Linked DNA regions of Homo sapiens: regions 1, 3 and 4 are each linked to region 2. The links come from fine-mapping of genetic effects on gene expression. A gene starts in region 2. Each other region holds a variant in brackets. All regions are shown on one strand. Distances are between the middles of the regions.

Region 1 (4,163 bases), 52 kb before region 2:
TTTTGAGGGTGGGGCTTTGGGTTTTCCAAGTGCTATGATGAATGTAAATGCAGGGCATCTGAGGGCCATGGAAGAGTGGCATCTATCCTGCCATGTCAAGAAAAACCACCTGGGATGAAAACACTTGGTTTGAATGTGGAAGAAGGAGTGTAAGTTCATCAATCAAAATAATAGGTTGTCACCAGAAACAGGAGCACCCTTTGCCAATCCTCAAGGACACTGGAGAACAAGGTGAGCCAGAGAAAGCCAAGATTGCCCACAGATGTTTTAGGGCAAATTGGGGAGGGGAGAAAAGGTGTCCCAGCTGAGCAGTCCTAAGAGAGGTTCATGACTGGAGTTATTGGCCTCATTTCACAGAAGGAAGCTGAGTGGTACCCAGGGGGGCAAAACACTTGGCCCAAGTTCACAGAGTAGTAAAGTCACTGAGCCACCCTGAGACACAGTGCAGGTGTTTGATGGTCCTTTACCTGCAAGTGTATGGACCCCTTTTCCCCAAAAAGGGGGTTACTGATGTGATTCAGACACATCACAAATGGGTCCTAATTAGCTGATCCCACATGGGAACAGGGAGATGAGTGCAGTAAATAACCTCAAAATCAATGCTTAAAGCTTTTTATGGGGAGAGATTCCCTGTGCTCAATAGTTCAGGGAATTGGAGCTGCTTTAAAACACTTCTGGAGCAACAGAAGCCAATGTACACATTCACAGCTTTCAGTTCCCCCAAATCAATTATGCTTAAGTGATGTTAAGGGCCTGACAGAGCCACAAAAGCAAAAACAGTCTTTAGCCCCAAAATGGAAGCTGATCCTCGTGCCTTAATCTATGCCAGTGTGACTGGCCCTATTTGCAGGCCCAGGTCTGATTCTCATGGCTCTTGAGGATTTAAGTAAAATCCTTCACATAATGTAAATTAGGGTTTATGTCAATGCTATTTATTTTAATATAAGAAAAAGAAAGAAAATACCCAAATCCCTAGAATCCAGGACACAAGGCTGCCTCAGCAGTAAGAGTATTTTCCCGAAGAATGAGGGTGACATTGATGTTGGCATGAGGGGTGAAGTGCAGCCCCATTAAAAGAGCCAGATGGGTTTGGGCTACTTCCAACCCCTGATGGTGTTCATTGGTGCAAGGAAGCTAATGCAAACCATACAAGACCAGAGGCTACTACAAGAGGCTGCAGGCCGGGCAAGGTGGCTCATGCTCATAATCCCAGCACTTTTGGAGGCCTGAGACAGGCAGATCACCTTCAGCTGTTTGAGACCAGCCTGGCCAACATGGTGAATCTCCATCCCTACTAAAAATATAAAAATTAGCTGGGTGTGGTGGCACATGCCTGTAGTCCCAGCTATTTGGGAGGCTGAGGCAAGAGGATCTTGAACCCGGGAGGTGGAGGTTGCAGTGAGCCAAGATCGCACCACTACACTCCAGCCTAGGTGACAGAGCAAGACTCTCTCCGCCAAAAAAGGAGGCTACAGTGATAAACTATGGAACTACTGCAGGATTAAAAGCAGGTACTAGATTACTGGATGCTATTCGTCTAAAAAGAAACATCATCTCATGCTGGGTAAGAACACAGAGACCAATCTAGCTTCACTCTTCTTTCTTTCTTTCTAGATGGAGAAATGCAGGCAGAATTAGATTCCAAACTTTCTGGTTTCCAGACCATCAGTCTTATTTGGTTCCCCTACTCAGAGGGCAATGAAAGGCTTCTGCTTCCAAGTTTTTCTCTCCATTTAGGTGGCAAAAATGGGATACAATACCCGAAAAAAAGGCTGCCCTGTGAACAGAAGGAAAATATGGCATTGGCAGCAATAAAAATGTTGCAAAGCACATTTTAGATTTTGCAGATCATCATCTTCTTTGCTCATATGAGGATGGGTATTTTACTCACATGGCTTTATGTAAATGTAGATCTGTCAGTTGTTCATGCCAGGGGGCTTAAAATTGACAGGTGTAGCCTCTTATCAACAAAGGGAGCACCGCCCCTTATATGTGATGCTGAAACTACAGAAAGAAACACTGAACACAGTTGACGTGAGTAGAGAGAAAAAAAAAGATTTTCAAAGTGGAAAAGTCTCTTGGGAGATCACC[T/C]AGTTCAGTATGTTCCAAAGAATATTCCAGGGGATGGTGATTTGCTACTATAGCGGGAAATTTTAGTTTAATCCAAATTAAACAAGTTTCTTCACTGCAGGACTTCTCAGGGTCTTTACTATAGTATGTATTGAAGATTTCCACAAAAAAAGAACATAAGATGCAAAGTTTCCCAGACTTCCGTGTCCACTGACACCCTTTTCATATTGAGGACAATCTCATGGGCCTAATAATGTTGATCTTCTCCAAAATCAGATGAAAACACAAAACAAAACAACGTGCACGTGTATGATCATTGTAGCACTATTTACAACAGCAAAGACATGGAATCAACCCAAATGCCCATCAATGATAGACTAGATAAAGAAAATGTGGTTACACATATACCACGGAATACTATGCAGCCATAAAAAGGAATGAGATCATGTCCTTTGCAGGAACATGGATGGAGCTGGATGCTGTTATCCTCGGCAAAGTAATGCAGGTACAGAAAACCATACACTGCATGTTCTCACTTATAAGTGAAAGGTGAACCATGAGAACACATGGACACAGGGAGGGAACAACACACACTGGGGCCTGTGTGGGGGAGAGAGGCAGCGGGAGGGAGAGCATCAGGAAGAATAGCCAATGGATGCTGGGCTTAATACCTAGGTAATGGAATGGTTTGTGCAGCCAACCACCATGGAACACTTTTACCTATGTAACAAACCCACACATCCTGCTCATGTACCCTTGAACTTAAAAGCTGAAGAAAAAAAAACTAAAAAGGTCTGAAAGAAAAAGTTACTTTTCCCAGATCACAAAACTCATCAGTAACAGAACCAGGACTCAAACTCAGACCTCCAGGCTATAACCAAAGAACCAAATCCCGTTCTTCCTGCTATATCCCTAATACTGTATCTCGAATAGAGTTATCAATAAGTAGTAAAGCAGTGACTAGTAAATAATTGGCAAGTGCTTTATCTACATTATCTTATATGAACTCAGTTAAAATCCCAAGAAAATACTTTATTTAGGAGGAATAGATACATTGTTACCCATTTTACAGATAAGGAAATGGAATCTTAACACAAATAGCCATTTGACCTCAGTCAAGTGGTAGTGCCAGAAAAGAGTGAATGGGGCCCGGCGCGGTGGCTCACGCCTGTAATCCCAGCACTTTGGGAGGCCCAGGCAGATCACGAGGTCAGGAGTTTGAGACCAGCCTGGCCAATAGGGTGAAACCCCGTCTCTACTAAAAATACTAAAATTAGCTGGGCGTGGTGGCATCTGCCTGTAGTCCCAGCTACCTGGGAGGCTGAGGCAGAAGAATCGCTCGAACCCAGGAGGCTGAGGTTGCAGTGAGCCAAGATCATGCCACTGCACTCCAGCCTGGACGACAGAGCGAGACTCTATCTCAAAAAAAAAAAGAAAGAAGCAAAAAGAGTGAATGATACAGAAGACACTTTTTACTACACATACAAATGACTACCCCCAGTAATTCCTGAAAAGAGGCGGCTACAGAGATAAAGGAAGGAAAATAAAGTAACATGGCTTCCTTGTGGCTATGGCAGAGATTCCTCTATCAAACTTGAGCTGAAGACAGACCCTGCCATTCACACCCAGACCCAATAGCTTCATAACTCAGTCCGTGACCAACACAGTTTGTGCACAGACTAGAAAAGCTATGCAGGTCTTGCAACGTAACCTCATTCTGAGACTGTCTGATTAAAGCCTGAGAGGTCGCATCTTGGCCACATGGAAGGCATTAGCCCAGCCCTCCCAGGCTTCCATTGTCTCTTGAAAGTTGCTCAAGTCTCTTCTGCCATCACAGAAATCTCGTGTCTTGGAACTTCAAATTGTTTACCATCCTTGCCCTTAATTCTGTGCTGTAGTCTCTACTGTTTTTTTTTTTCTTTTTTCTTTGTTTTTGAAATGGGGTTTCACTTTGTTGCCCACGCTGGAGTGCAGTGGCACGATCATGGTTCACTGAAGCCTCGACCTCCTGGGCTCAAGCAGTTCTCCCACCTCAGCCTCCCAAGTAGCTGGAACTATAGGTGCCTGCCACCACGTTCAGCTAATTTTTGTAT
Region 2 (4,163 bases):
TCCAAGTGTCTCCTATGCCCCTCAATGACCCGATGACTGCCCTAGGACCCCGCAATGATCTCCACTAACATTTAGGTTCCAATGAACTTCCTAAAACCCTAATAAACCAACATATTCTCATTGTTATTCCACTGGACTTGCTATGTTCCTACAGACCAATTACTTCCCTTTCAATCACTGTTATTCCAAAGTCTTCAAAGCACCCCATTGACTCTGGATGACGATTATTCATCTTCAATGATCCCCCATTAACTCCTCTGACCGCTATTTTTTCTCCTGATATCTGCTCACCCAATGGCCACCATTAACATCTATTAATATCTTAACTGTTTGAATGCCCCAACCCCCGCTACTACCCTATCAGTGATGCCCACTGATACCTGATGACCCCTACTAACTCTCCTGGTTGCCCATTTATATTCTTGGTAATGTCCACTATTTCTCCCAATGACTGTCGTTAATATCCACTAACACCCAGATATTTAGGACTCCCCTAATCCACTATTCACTCCCACTGTGGTTCACAAACACCCCAATGACCCCACATTAACAATCATTAACACCTGGTTTTTCAATGACCCTCCATGACTGCCCTGATCCACAAGTTATTCTACTCCATGTCTACTCCCCCCTACCCCCAACAATGACCATCATTAACCTCCACTAACACCCAGCACTTCAGAGACCTTCAGTCACTCCCCTGACCACCTTCAATCTCATTGGTATCCACTCCCCTCCCTACAGTAACCATCATAATATCCACTAACACACAAGACTTTAATGACTTCCATTGCCCCTACCCATGACCATCATTAACATTCACTAAAACCCACAACTTCAACAGCCCCTACTGACACATCCATTTATTCCCATTGATTTCCATTCATCCCCCAATGACAACCATTATTATCCATGTGCAACTATGTCTCAATAATTTTCCCATAAAATCCCAATAATTGCATATTCTGTCACTGACATTCACTGACACTCCCATGTCCCCAAATATCTTTACTCCCTCCTAATAACTGCTCTTACCTGCTATTAATTCCCAAGTCCTCAACCTCCCCATCCACATTTATTCTCAGTGAGGTCCACTGATCCTTCCCAATGACTCCATTTACATCCACTAATTCCAAAGTGATCAATGGCACAGACTTCTCAGTGACTTCCATTAAATCTCAAATGAACAACTTTACACATCCACTAACATTTGGTCCCTTAAAGACTTCCCCAACAGTCTACAAGTGACTTCAATGATGTAAATACTCTGAGTGCCCATCGAACTCCACTGATTCCCCTTCCCACTTCTATTATTTAATAAATAACACCCTACTCCTCAAAAACACTAACTTCTCAACAGTCCTCCTCTGTTGAGTCTATTGACTTTCTTCAGCGCATTCTTTGATCTAAACACTCTAAATCCTCAGTGACCCTCTTTGGTCCTAACAGCCCCCTTTTTGATTCCTCAATGACCTAAACTCACACCAAACCCCCAGTGAACATCCGTTGACAGCCAATGACTTCCTCAATGATGTAAACTACACCATGTGTCCACAGTGACCTCCTCCTGACCCGGCGATGGTTTAAGCCACTTCTCTTAAGTCCCAAGACTCCCTACTGGTCACCCACTGACCCTTCCCCCGTCCAACAATGACAACCCCTAAGGATTCCTTTTAAGACCCCACTAAGTGGAGTCATACCTGTTTCCTCCAGGCCCTCGTCTTCGGGATCCGGCGGGACCGCGTGAACCCCTCCACCTTCTCTAGCTTCCTCACTGGGGAACTGCGTGTCCTCCAAGTCCTCCGCGCCCCCGGGGGCCGGGGCAGCAGTGTCTCCTCCGACCTCCATCTGCACATCCCTGAGTGGGAGGGGAATCGAGGGTGACGGGCGGTGAAAGAAACTTCTGAAAAGCCTTTATAGAGTCAGGCCCCCTTGGACACACTCCTACTGCTCATTTCCCCACGGATTTCAATAGGACGAGACATCCAAAATCATGCCCAAATACGTCCCCCCTCCAACACTTTCCGAAAAGAGGAGACTCTACTGGGCCTCAGGAAATAGAGATATACAAACACCTGTTTTAACTCCGAATCTCAATTGGCCGGATACCATTACTTCCCCGTAGCGGCGGTGGCATCACACTTCCGGGTGCGGCCCGGGAGGTGCCACACTTCCGGGTACGACCCCTCCCAGAAGACACTTCCGGTTGCGGAGCTTTATTGGCTCCTCGCGGCGTCCCTCTCCCGCCGCCTACGGGTGTCCCCTCATAGTTGAGATGGCGCGGGCCACTTCGGATCTACGTCAGGTCTGTTCGGGAGCGCAATGAGACCTCTCTGCACTCCTTTCAACGGATCTGGCTACGGCTGCTAACCCGGGAGAGCGAGGCCCACTTCGCTTACCAGTGGTTGGCGTGAGGGGGGACGCGGCTCGCTCTAGCCAATCCCGGAGTACATAGGGCGCGACCGTCTTCTTTCTGGGCCAATCGAGATGAGCCGCCTCATTTCCCCGCTGTCTACTCCCCCCGCCAAATCCTAACCAATACTGTGCGTTGTGTTGCGTTTGCACACGCCCATCCATTGATTGACGTCTCCCTCGACCCAATCGAAGACTCGAGCCTATTCCTTGTTTCACAAGAGGACTTTTGCAGCGTCAGTCCCGATGGATACCTGTGCCGGACCCACAAACGGGCTCTCCCAGAACTGAGGCAACTCCACTTTCTCTTATCCCTTAACCCTGCCAAGAAAGTCAAGGGAGGGGAGAGGCGCGAATGCTTGACGGGCAGTCGCCGCTTCTAATCAGCGTGCCGCGCCAGCAGCTCCGTACCCTGCCGGGTTCCCACGTCTACCTGCAGCTGGGGGAAGAACTCTGCCAGCCCAGGGCAGGGGCGGGCACTCACTTGGACCAGGACCTGCCCGACGCCCCCGGTCCGCCGGGCGAACGGGTCGTCACTTTCTGTGATCAGTTTGGGAAAAGGCTTGGGGGCCCTGCCACGGGCCAGTGTGGGAACCCAGGGTTCGAATTCCCGCCCCGACGCTGCTTCCGGACCGAAAGCCCCCTGAACGCCTTGCCCCAAGTGCCCTGGGCCTTGGTTTCTCCATCAGTGAAACAATGATGGGAATCGCTTGACGTGAAGTGAGTGGAGGTGCTGGCACACTTCGAGTGATTGCTAAGGGGAAGCCTTTGGTACTAGTTAGGATAATTATTTTAATTACAGTATAGTTAGGGTAATGAATTCCAAATACCAGTGTAGCATCATGTGCTTTATATACAATAGGTAATCGATAAGTAATAAATATTAAATTTATATAACAGAAACAATGGATAAATTTATGTGCATACAAAATATATTTACCTAATACATTTAGAAGTATATAATATATAATAAACATGTAAAAAAGTACAATAAAATAACATCTCATAAGCAAACTTATTTATTAATCTCGCTGTGTTACCCAGGCTGGAGTGCAATGGCAAAATGTTATTGACTCATTGCAGCCTCCGTCTCCCGGGTTCAAGCAATTCTCCTGCCTCAGCCTCTGGAGTAGCTGGGATTACAGGTGCCCGCCACCACGTCCGGCTAATTTTTGTATTTTTAGTAGACATGGGGTTTCGCCATGTTGGCCAGGCTGGTCTTGAACTCCCGACCTCAGGTGATTCACCCGCCTCAGCTTCCCAAATTGCTGGGATTACAGGAGTGAGCCATCATGCCCAGCCCAGGGCTACACACTTTAAACAACCAGATCTCGCAATAACTCCCTCAGTCACTGTCACCAAGAGGATGATGCTAAACCATTCATGAAGGATTCACCCCCAAGATCCGATCAACTCCCACCAGACCCCACCTTCAATAATGGGGATTACCATTCGACATCAGATTTCGGTGGGAACATAGATCCAAACCTTATCAGGGGAGTAGAGGAATAGTTACGCCTTCATCTAGCTTTGTCAATCTGCATTTTTACCTCAGAGGAAGCAATCAGATATGCATTTGTTTCAGGTGAGCAGAGGGATGACTTGGGGTTCGCTCCTTTGTCTCGCACCTGTGAAGATAAACTATCAATTTACGTTGTCAGGGTAAAATTCAACAGAACCGTTTTAGGGTAAAGATCTTGCAGCCCACAAGGAATCCCTAGAGGGCAAATTATGAGGGAAGTATGTAGCTT
Region 3 (4,163 bases), 40 kb before region 2:
CCGAGAATCTTATTTACTCTGTGGCTTAAGATTTGGGCAAAAATATAGAAGGATTAGAACGATCTCATTTCTTATTTGCTTTGTTTCTCGTCTGAGGCGATAATGAGATGAACAATTACTTGTCTCCAAGAAACAGACATCAGAAAAACATCCTGTTTTTTTCACAGAAATTAAGTATATCAAAGTATTTTCCTGCTCTATTTTCCCATTATCTTTGTGGTTATGAGAGTGGCCTGAATGTGGAGCATGTTGATTTCAAACTCTAATTACAGTGGTTGTTTCCGGTTTGGGGCAACTATTAATAAAATTTGCTATGAACATTTACGTATACTTTTTTTTAAAAAACGGAGTCTTGCTCTGTCGCCCAGGCTGGAGTGCAATGGCGTGATCCCGGCTCACTGCAACCTCTGCCTCTCCAGTTCAAGCCATTCTCCTGCCTCAGCCTCCCAAGTAGCTGGGACTACAGGCACCCGCCACCACGCCCAGCTGATTTTTTTGTATTTTTAGTAGAGACGGGGTTTCACCGTGTTAGCCAGGATGGTCTCAAACTACTGACCTCGTGATCGCCCGCCTTGGCCTCCCAAAGTGCTGGGATTACAGGCGTGAGCCACCGTGCCCGGCCTTACGTATACTTTTTAATGAAGCTATGTATTTTCATTTCTCTTGGGTAAATACCACGGAGGGGAATTTCTGAGTCATGGTAAATATGTGTTTAAATTTAGAAGAAACTACCCGTTTTTCAAAGTGTTTGCACCACTTTGTGCTTCTACCAGCGATGTTTGAGTGTTCCGGTTATTTTACAACCTCCCCACAATGTGTATTAATATTTTTACACATTAGTGAGCCTGTAATGGTATCTCTTTGTGTCTTTTAACATTTTTTATTATAATAACATCTATTTGCTTATAAAAGAAAGATGTACTTAGTGTATTTCAAAAACACAGAGAAGTAGAAAAAAGGAAAAAAGTAGCAATTGTCATTATTTCATAACTATAGCACTCTAGGAGGCTAAGACGGGCAGATCACCTGAGGTGAGGAGTTTGAGACCAGCTTGCCCAACATGGTGAAGCCCCGTCTCTACTAAAGACACAAAAAATTAGCCAGGCTTGGTGACGGGTGCCTGTAATCCCAGCTACTCGGGAGGCTGAGGCAGGAGAATCACTTCAACCTGGGAGGGAGAGGTTACAGTGAGCCAAGATGGCACCACCATACTCCAGCCTGGGTGACAAGAGTGAAACTCCATCTGGAAAAAAAAAAAATAGTTTATTTCCTTTTCATTATTTTGCTGTTATTTTTACATATTTATAATTCTGCATAAGCAGTCTTGATTCTTGCTGTTTATATTTTAAAGAATTCTCATTTTTGAAATTTATTCTTTCAAGAGTTTTTTATATATTATAGATATTAAATCTTTATCCATAATATATGTAACATATTTTTGAACATTTATGGTATTTCTTTCCATGCAAATTTTTTTATGTAGTCAAAGTTATCACCTCTGGGTTTTGAGTCATAGCCAGAAAGCCTTTTCCTACATCAGAATAAAGAGAAATTCACCCGTGTTTCCATCTAGCACTTGTATGCTTTCATATTATTACATTAGATCCTTTATTTGCTTGTTCTTGTGGTGGATGGTGAGACATGGGCCTAATTTTAACTTTTTCCAAATAATGATTTAGGTATGGAGCTATTCAGATTTTCTATTTCCTCCTGCATCAGTTTAAGGGATTTGCATATTTCAAGAAATTTGTCCATCTCATCTAAATGTTTTAATTTGCTCTCCGAAGTCATTTA[G/T]CTCACAAACACACACACTTTTATTGTTCTTTTAATGTCTATAAGACCTATAATGACACAATGGGAAAAGACCATACCCGAATGACTGATGCTTATGCAATAACATTAAGCAGAGGGCCTGCCACTAAGCACGTGAGTGATTACATTTTATTTTTAAATTTCATAATCTTCAGATGCCTGCAAGTGAATTGAGCAAAATTACATTTGACGACATGACTGTTGGGAATGATAGCACCATGTAGTGCTGTTGATAGAGGGAGATGATTTTTTAAAAATCATGGTGAGTTGGTTAGATGCTCCAAAGATGTTCTCCTCTTACAGCAATTACTCAGTAACTTGTTATACTTATTATTGAGATAATATGAAAATTAATAAGGTATAACCTCATTTCTTAGAATGTAAGCTCTCAGCCAGCACACGAAGGTGTATAACATCAATGATCATACTTCATCTAGACATGGTATAAGTAGTTTGATGATGAAACACAGAGGAAACAGAGGTTGCTCTCAGAGAGGTCAAGGAAGGCTATGTGATAAAGGGGCACTTAAAAATGAATAGCTTCTGGTGTTTGAAGATAAAATACAATCAGAGTAAACACCATGCAGGGAGAAAAGTCATATTCGAAAAGAAATCTTGCCTTGCATGAGTTGCGGGTGGACAGGGAGGGGTCCAGAATGGTGAGAGGTAGTAGTGGGATGTATGGCTGGAAAGGTAGGTTCACATAAGACCATTAGAGAGGGACTTGCATTCTGGAATAAAGTTTTCGGATTTGACCCTGTAGTTCATGGGAAACCAGAGAAGTAAAGAGCTATAAGTGAATTAGTTCTGACTACAATGTGACTGACAAATGGAAATGAACAAGGCTAGAGGCAGAGTGGGAAATGAAGTTCTCCCGTAGCCATGTAAGTGGCAATGCCAATCTGAGCTAGGATATTGGCGCTCCAGAAAACACAAAGATGGACGTGAGAACACAGCCGGCAGATATGAGGAAATAAGCAATAGGAATTTAACACAGTATTATAAGTTCTATTTCAAAATTTCAAAAATACTTGCCTTTGCAATGCAAACTGAAAGAGCCACAATAAAAATATCAATTTTCTTCACAGCAGGACACCTGGGCAATGTCCGGAATGAATGAGCTTCAGTGAACCATTCTAATGGCAACCCTAGTTCAGCAAAATGAACAAAGGACTGTGAAGGGTGATCGGAAGCCAGTAATTCCTGGATCCTTTCATGGAAAAGGGCCTTTGGAATTTTAAAAGTGACATATCAGGCCAGGCGCAGTGGCTCACGCCTGTAATCCCAGCACTTTGGGAGGCCGAGGCGGGCAGATCCCCTGAGGTCGGGAGTTCGAGACCAGCCTGACCACCATGGAGAAACCCTGTCCCTACTAAAAAAAAAAAAAAAAAAAAAAAAAAAAAATTAGCCATGCATGGTGGCACAAGCCTGTAATCCCAGCTATTCCAGAGGCTGAGGCAGGAGAATTGCTTGAACCTGGGAGGTGGAGGTTGCGGTGAGCCGAGATTGTGCCACTGCACTCCAGCCTGAGCAACAAGAGTGAAATTCTGTCTCAAAGAAAAGAAAACAAAAGTGACATATCAGAGCTAAAGAGCCATCAATTTAATTTAAAAATTTGAAATGGATGATGTGGATTTGTTAGAGAAGTCTCGCCGTGGTCTAGCTCGTGAATAATTTTATAGCATGGAGGTCGTTAGTATATTTTGGTAATTGTTTTTCAGCTTCATTTTTGTAGAAACCAACTATTCAAGGGCCCTCAGGCTTAAAGGGAATTAAAATAGGGTATAAGGTAAAGGTCATTACTCTGTAAAGCTATAGCTTCCATTGACTCAAATGGAAAATGTCATTCCCCTAAAGACAGTCAGAGGACTCTCATATGATATAGTGGAAGGTATATAGATTTTGGATCCAGGTGGGCCTCCTTTGACTTATTTGAGCTGTTTTTTGACCTTGAACAAAACACAGAATCTCTCAGAAATTAGGTTTCCTCCCCCATCTATTAAAAAAAAAGGGGGGAAAAGACTGGGCGTGGTGGCTCATGCCAGTAATCCTAGCACTTTAGGAGGCCAAGGCAGGGTGATTACCTGAGGTCAGGAGTTCGAGACCAGTCTGGCCAACCTGGTGAAACCCCATCTCTACTAAAAATACAAAAATTAGCCAGGCGTGATGGTGTGCACCTGTAATCCCAGCTACTCAGGAGGCTGAAGCAGGAGAATTGCTTGAATCCAGGAGGCGGATGTGCAGTGAGCCGAGATCACGCCACTGCACTCCAGCCTGGGCAACAAGAACAAAACTCTGTTTCAAAAAAAAGGGTGGTGGGGAAATGGCAAACAATGCACACAATTCTTGGT
Region 4 (4,163 bases), 22 kb before region 2:
TCAAAAAAAAAAAAAAAAAGGGAATTTAAGTAACCTAACTGTGTAACCTGAAGTTACACAGCTAGTATGCAGCAGAGCTGGGATTCTAACAAACACAGTCTGGCCCTGGGTTCTGTTCTGCTAACTAGTGTGCTCTATTAGGTAGTAATATTATTATCCTCCGGGAGATTCTACTGCAGTCACTTTGGCCACTCTCTCTTCCATGCCTTGTCTAGCTTGCTACTCAGGATGTGCTATGTTTGCATCTCTTCGGGCCCCTCCTCTGACTCCTCTGTTTTTCAGTGGGTTTCTTTCTGGCTTACTTTTTTCAAGAATGTCCTGGCCGGGTGCGGTTGCTCACGCCTGTAATCCCAGCATTCTGGGAGGCCGAGGCGGGCGGATCACGAGGGCAGGAGATCGAGACCATCCTGGATAACACGGTAAAACCCCGTCTCTACTAAAAATACAGAAAAACATTAGCCGGGTGTGGTAGCGGGCACCTGTAGTCCCAGCTACTCTGGAGGCTGAGGCAGGACAATGGCGTGAACCTGGGAGCCGGAGCTTGCAGTGAGCCGAGATGGCGCCACTGCACTCCAGCCTGGGCGACAGAGCGAGACTCCGTCTCAAAAATAAATAAATAAATAAATAAAAATAATAATAATAATAAAAAGAATGTCCTTCCGCCTTTTGGCAACACTGAGCTCCCCCAGGCTCATTCACATTTGAACCTGAACTACAAGCCAAGAAGCTTGAGAATTATGGTAATTGAATGCAAGCCCTGAGAAAAGCTGTTACAGGAAGTGAGTGAAGACTTCCCAGGCAGCTGTCAATTATTTCAATGAAAGGAGAAGTAGCCCTGCCAGGAAGGTCAGTTGAGTCAGGAGAACACAGGGCAAATCAAAAGCCAAAGTCTCGCTCTGTCGCCCAGGCTGGAGTGTAGTGGCGCCATCTTGGCTCACTGCAACCTCCGCCTTCCGGGTTCAAGCAATTCTCTGCCACAGCCTCCTGAGTAGCTAGGATTCCAGACACCTGCCACCACCAAACCAAGGGGTGTCACCATCTTGGCAAGGCTGGTCTTGAACTCCTGACCTCGTGATCCACCCGCCTCAGCCTCCCAGAGTGCTGGGATTACAGGCGTGAGCCACAGCACCCAGCTGGTCACTGCGTTTTAGAGACATTAAGCAATTTGCCTGAGGTCATCCAGCTGGTGAACAGGGAAACCAGGACTCGAATCCTAGGTGCCCAGTGGTAAATCGGCAGAATATCCAGGCTGACCCCATTTGTGTGACACAGAGAGGATGACAAAGAGGATACTGAAGTTCCTTAGAGATTCCTGGAGACTGGCCTTAGCAAGTAGGTGGTGTCAGTGGGGCAGGGGACCACAGCCTGGGCCTGGAGTCAGCTCTGCCCGGATGCGAGTGGTGACTCGGGGACTAAAGCTCCCTGGGCCTCATCTGTGGACTTGGGATAATAATGGCAACAAACGTGAGACCCAACGTTTATTGAGGGCTTACTGTACAGATTCACTATCTCAATTTTCCTCATCGCTAAATTGGGAATAACAGCAAGAATAGCAGTGAGAATAATAAATGATAGATACCATTTATTGAGCATTTATGTTATAAAAATCTCTGTTCTGAGAGATATACACACCTTAGTGTTCCTCATCTGTAGCCTGGGAATAATAATAATAAATCATATGAACCACTTACTGATCACTTAATGGACAGAAGCCTCTGATCTAAGTGAGTCACACATCTCAGTTCCCATTCTCTAGGGACTGGGAATAGTGAATCATCCCAACAATATGTGAGAGCTGGCATTCACTGAATACTGACTGTGTGCCAGGTCCTCTTCTACACACATTAGATAGTGTCCAACTTGACTGGTCCTTGGCAACTCTCCAGTGTCGTCTCCCATCCCACTCTACCTCATTCCACTCTACCACGCCGGCCTTCTCCAGACGTCTCCTCAAACACAGCGAAGTGCAGCCTCACCTCCCGCCTTGGCATGAGGCATGTCTTCTGCCAGGCCCACCTTTCCCCAGACACCCACAGGGCTCACCCCCTCGCTTCTCTACCTCGCTTCTCCGCTCAGATACCACTTCCTAGGTGAGGCCGTCGCTGACCGCGCTGTTTAAAATCCAGTGCTTAGAACAGTGCCTGGTACCCAGCA[G/A]GCAATCGGCAAATGCCTGCTTAGTCAGTACATGCTCAGTCAATGGCCGCAGCCTGCTGCTGGGTGCCTTTGGATTTGGGTCCCAAATGCCGGCCTCCAGAGTGGCGGACACATTTAACAGATCTGAGGTTGCCTGGGGGATGTGACCCCAGAGAAGGACCAGTAGGGCGAAGGCCCCGAGGGGACACGTGTTTTGGAATGTTTGAGACGGGTGGAGAGGCAGCCTTGGCTAGAACCCAATTTGTGAGGGGAGCTCAGATGGGCGGGCATGTCCCAGAGCCAGCGCGAGTCTGCGGGTCTTGCAGAGACTCTGGGTTTCCTGAGACCACCGGAGACGCACAGGCCCCGAGGACCGGAATGGGTTAACACCTGCCCTCCGGCCCCTGTTGACAACATAGATGGTTTGGGAACTCGAGATGAGGCCGTGGGGCGGGGGATACTGACACCCACTTACTCTCTCTGAGTTCAGGAGCATTTACCCAGCCTCTGTACGGCGCCCGGGGCTCGACTGGTGGGAGGGGTCCGGCAGAGGCCCCGCCTCGAGATCCCAGCACGCCCCGCCCCGCTCCACGGTGTAGCACAGACTCCGCGGAGAACGCGAGCATGGTCGGAAATCATCGCCTTTATTTCTTGGCGGGTCTCGAGGGAAGGTCGGGAACGGGCGGGTCCTGCTGGCCTAGAGGGCGTCAGGGGCAGCCACCGGCGGCTCGGGATCCTCCTCGTCGCGAGCGCGGGGGAGCTCAGGTCCGGCCTGCCGGGGGCTGGGTGAGGCTGCGGACCAGGTTCCTACGCTCCTCGCGTCCGCCCGCGTCTGCCCTAGGCCTCCACCGCGGCTTCCTCTGTCCCCGGGGCCGCCCTGCTCCCCACAGACCCCACTCTCGGGGGCCGCTCCCAGGACCCCCGCCCGCTCTCTCCTGACTCGGTCCCTGCCCGCCCCGCCTCCCTTCCTCGGGCTCCCTACCTCTCCCTCGCCGGCCCCGACCTCGGGGGCGCTCCGGACCTGCTCCCCGAATATCTCCAGCTCCGCCTTCAGCCTGCGGAGAAGGGGCCGAGGAGACAGGAGGAAGAGAGCGAGAGTCCAGGGGACGAGGAGGAAGCCACCGAGACGCGGAGACCCGACGACGCCGAGGGAGGCACAGGCCGGGGAAGCGGCAGTCGGGGGCGGAGCGGGGGACCTGGGCGGGTTCCCCTCCGCCCTGCCCCTGCCCTCCTCGCCCACTCCTCCCTTCCCCTCTCACCCGTCATTCACCGCCATGGCGCCCTCGACCTCAGGCGGCGAGTGCAGCCGCCGCTCCACCTCCCGCAGCTTGGCGCGCACCAGCCTCCCTGTCGGTGGGCGGGCGTCAGGGGCAGGGCCGAGGCCCGGGCACATCCCCCTCCCCCCGCCCACCTGGCGCGGGAGGCTCACTCTCCGAGAGCAGCTGCTCCTTGCTTCTCTCCAGGGCACGGATCTCCCGGGCCAGTCGCTGCTCCAGCATCTGCGAGGACAAAGAGGAGGCCTCCCCGTTTGGCCGTCCTCTTGGCTACACGGCCCGCCCCTCCCCTTTTGTGCTTCTCGCGAAGTCTTCACCTACATTAGGTCATTCATTCATTCAACTATTTATTAACTCAATGTGCAGTTCCTGCTGTGGCTGGAGACCCACCCACCTCCCCCTAAACGCTCTCCATGTCTCCAGGCACCTCTCAAACTTGAACTCTTCCCACTCTCCTCATCCTCCATTCCCCAATCTGCGGCTCCTCAACGGTTTCAGGCACCGTCCAGCCCCAGGGCCTTCCTTCTGCACCGATACCTGCACGGCTTCTTCCCTCACTTCCTTCACCTCTGCGTTGAGATGTCACTTGCTTAGAGGCCTTCCCACTGAAGTTCCACGATCTAGCCACTAACTTTCTTGGTGCCTCCACCGTCCCCAACCAGCTTGGGACAGCAAAGACGTGGACTCTTTGATCTGCTACCCTCCCTCCCTGCCTCAAATGCTGACCGGTGCAACCACTGACATTAGCTAAATGAA

Which allele goes with the higher level. Positions count from the first base shown, and alleles are read on the strand shown. Sizes are in standard deviations (SD) of each study's normalised expression. Not every link is listed here.
For the expression in subcutaneous fat of the gene that starts at base 2,144 in region 2, allele G in region 4 goes with a higher level than allele A (moderate effect, 0.72 SD a copy in TwinsUK).

What was found. PIP is the estimated chance that this variant, and not a neighbour inherited with it, causes the effect. A credible set is the group of variants that fine-mapping cannot tell apart.
Region 1: its variant is the best candidate, but not a certain one, in a credible set for the expression of MON1B in cerebellar hemisphere (GTEx, PIP 0.52).
Region 3: its variant is the best candidate, but not a certain one, in a credible set for the expression of MON1B in whole blood (TOPMed, PIP 0.75).
Region 4: its variant is the best candidate, but not a certain one, in a credible set for the expression of MON1B in subcutaneous fat (TwinsUK, PIP 0.71).

Annotation. Positions count from the first base shown.
Region 1 is chr16:77,241,037-77,245,199 of GRCh38, reverse strand. No RefSeq gene overlaps it. Among named protein-coding and RNA genes, the nearest start is that of SYCE1L, 44 kb to the right of the region's middle. The variant T/C (reference allele first, on the strand shown) is at 2,092.
Region 2 is chr16:77,189,171-77,193,333 of GRCh38, reverse strand. It overlaps MON1B (MON1 vesicular trafficking associated B), which reads right to left and starts at 2,144. Exons shown (of 6, transcript NM_014940.4): 1 at 2,076-2,144; 2 at 1,701-1,858. The coding sequence starts at 1,848. LOC124903725 reads left to right here and starts at 2,768. Exons shown (of 1, transcript XM_047435021.1): 1 at 2,768-3,426. The coding sequence starts at 2,768. The coding sequence ends at 3,112. RefSeq lists enhancers at 1,993-2,042, 2,063-2,352, 1,478-2,426.
Region 3 is chr16:77,229,398-77,233,560 of GRCh38, reverse strand. No RefSeq gene overlaps it. Among named protein-coding and RNA genes, the nearest start is that of SYCE1L, 32 kb to the right of the region's middle. RefSeq lists a cis regulatory region at 2,805 and an enhancer at 2,721-2,890. The variant G/T (reference allele first, on the strand shown) is at 1,795.
Region 4 is chr16:77,211,599-77,215,761 of GRCh38, reverse strand. It overlaps SYCE1L (synaptonemal complex central element protein 1 like), which reads right to left. Exons shown (of 11, transcript NM_001129979.3): 8 at 3,563-3,632; 9 at 3,393-3,480; 10 at 3,116-3,188; 11 at 2,547-2,905. The coding sequence ends at 2,831. LOC124903726 (a long non-coding RNA gene) reads left to right here and starts at 3,631. Exons shown (of 2, transcript XR_007065121.1): 1 at 3,631-3,733; 2 at 3,831-4,163. RefSeq lists silencers at 2,602-2,651, 2,682-2,771, 2,882-3,211, 3,272-3,631 and an enhancer at 2,551-3,524. The variant G/A (reference allele first, on the strand shown) is at 2,155.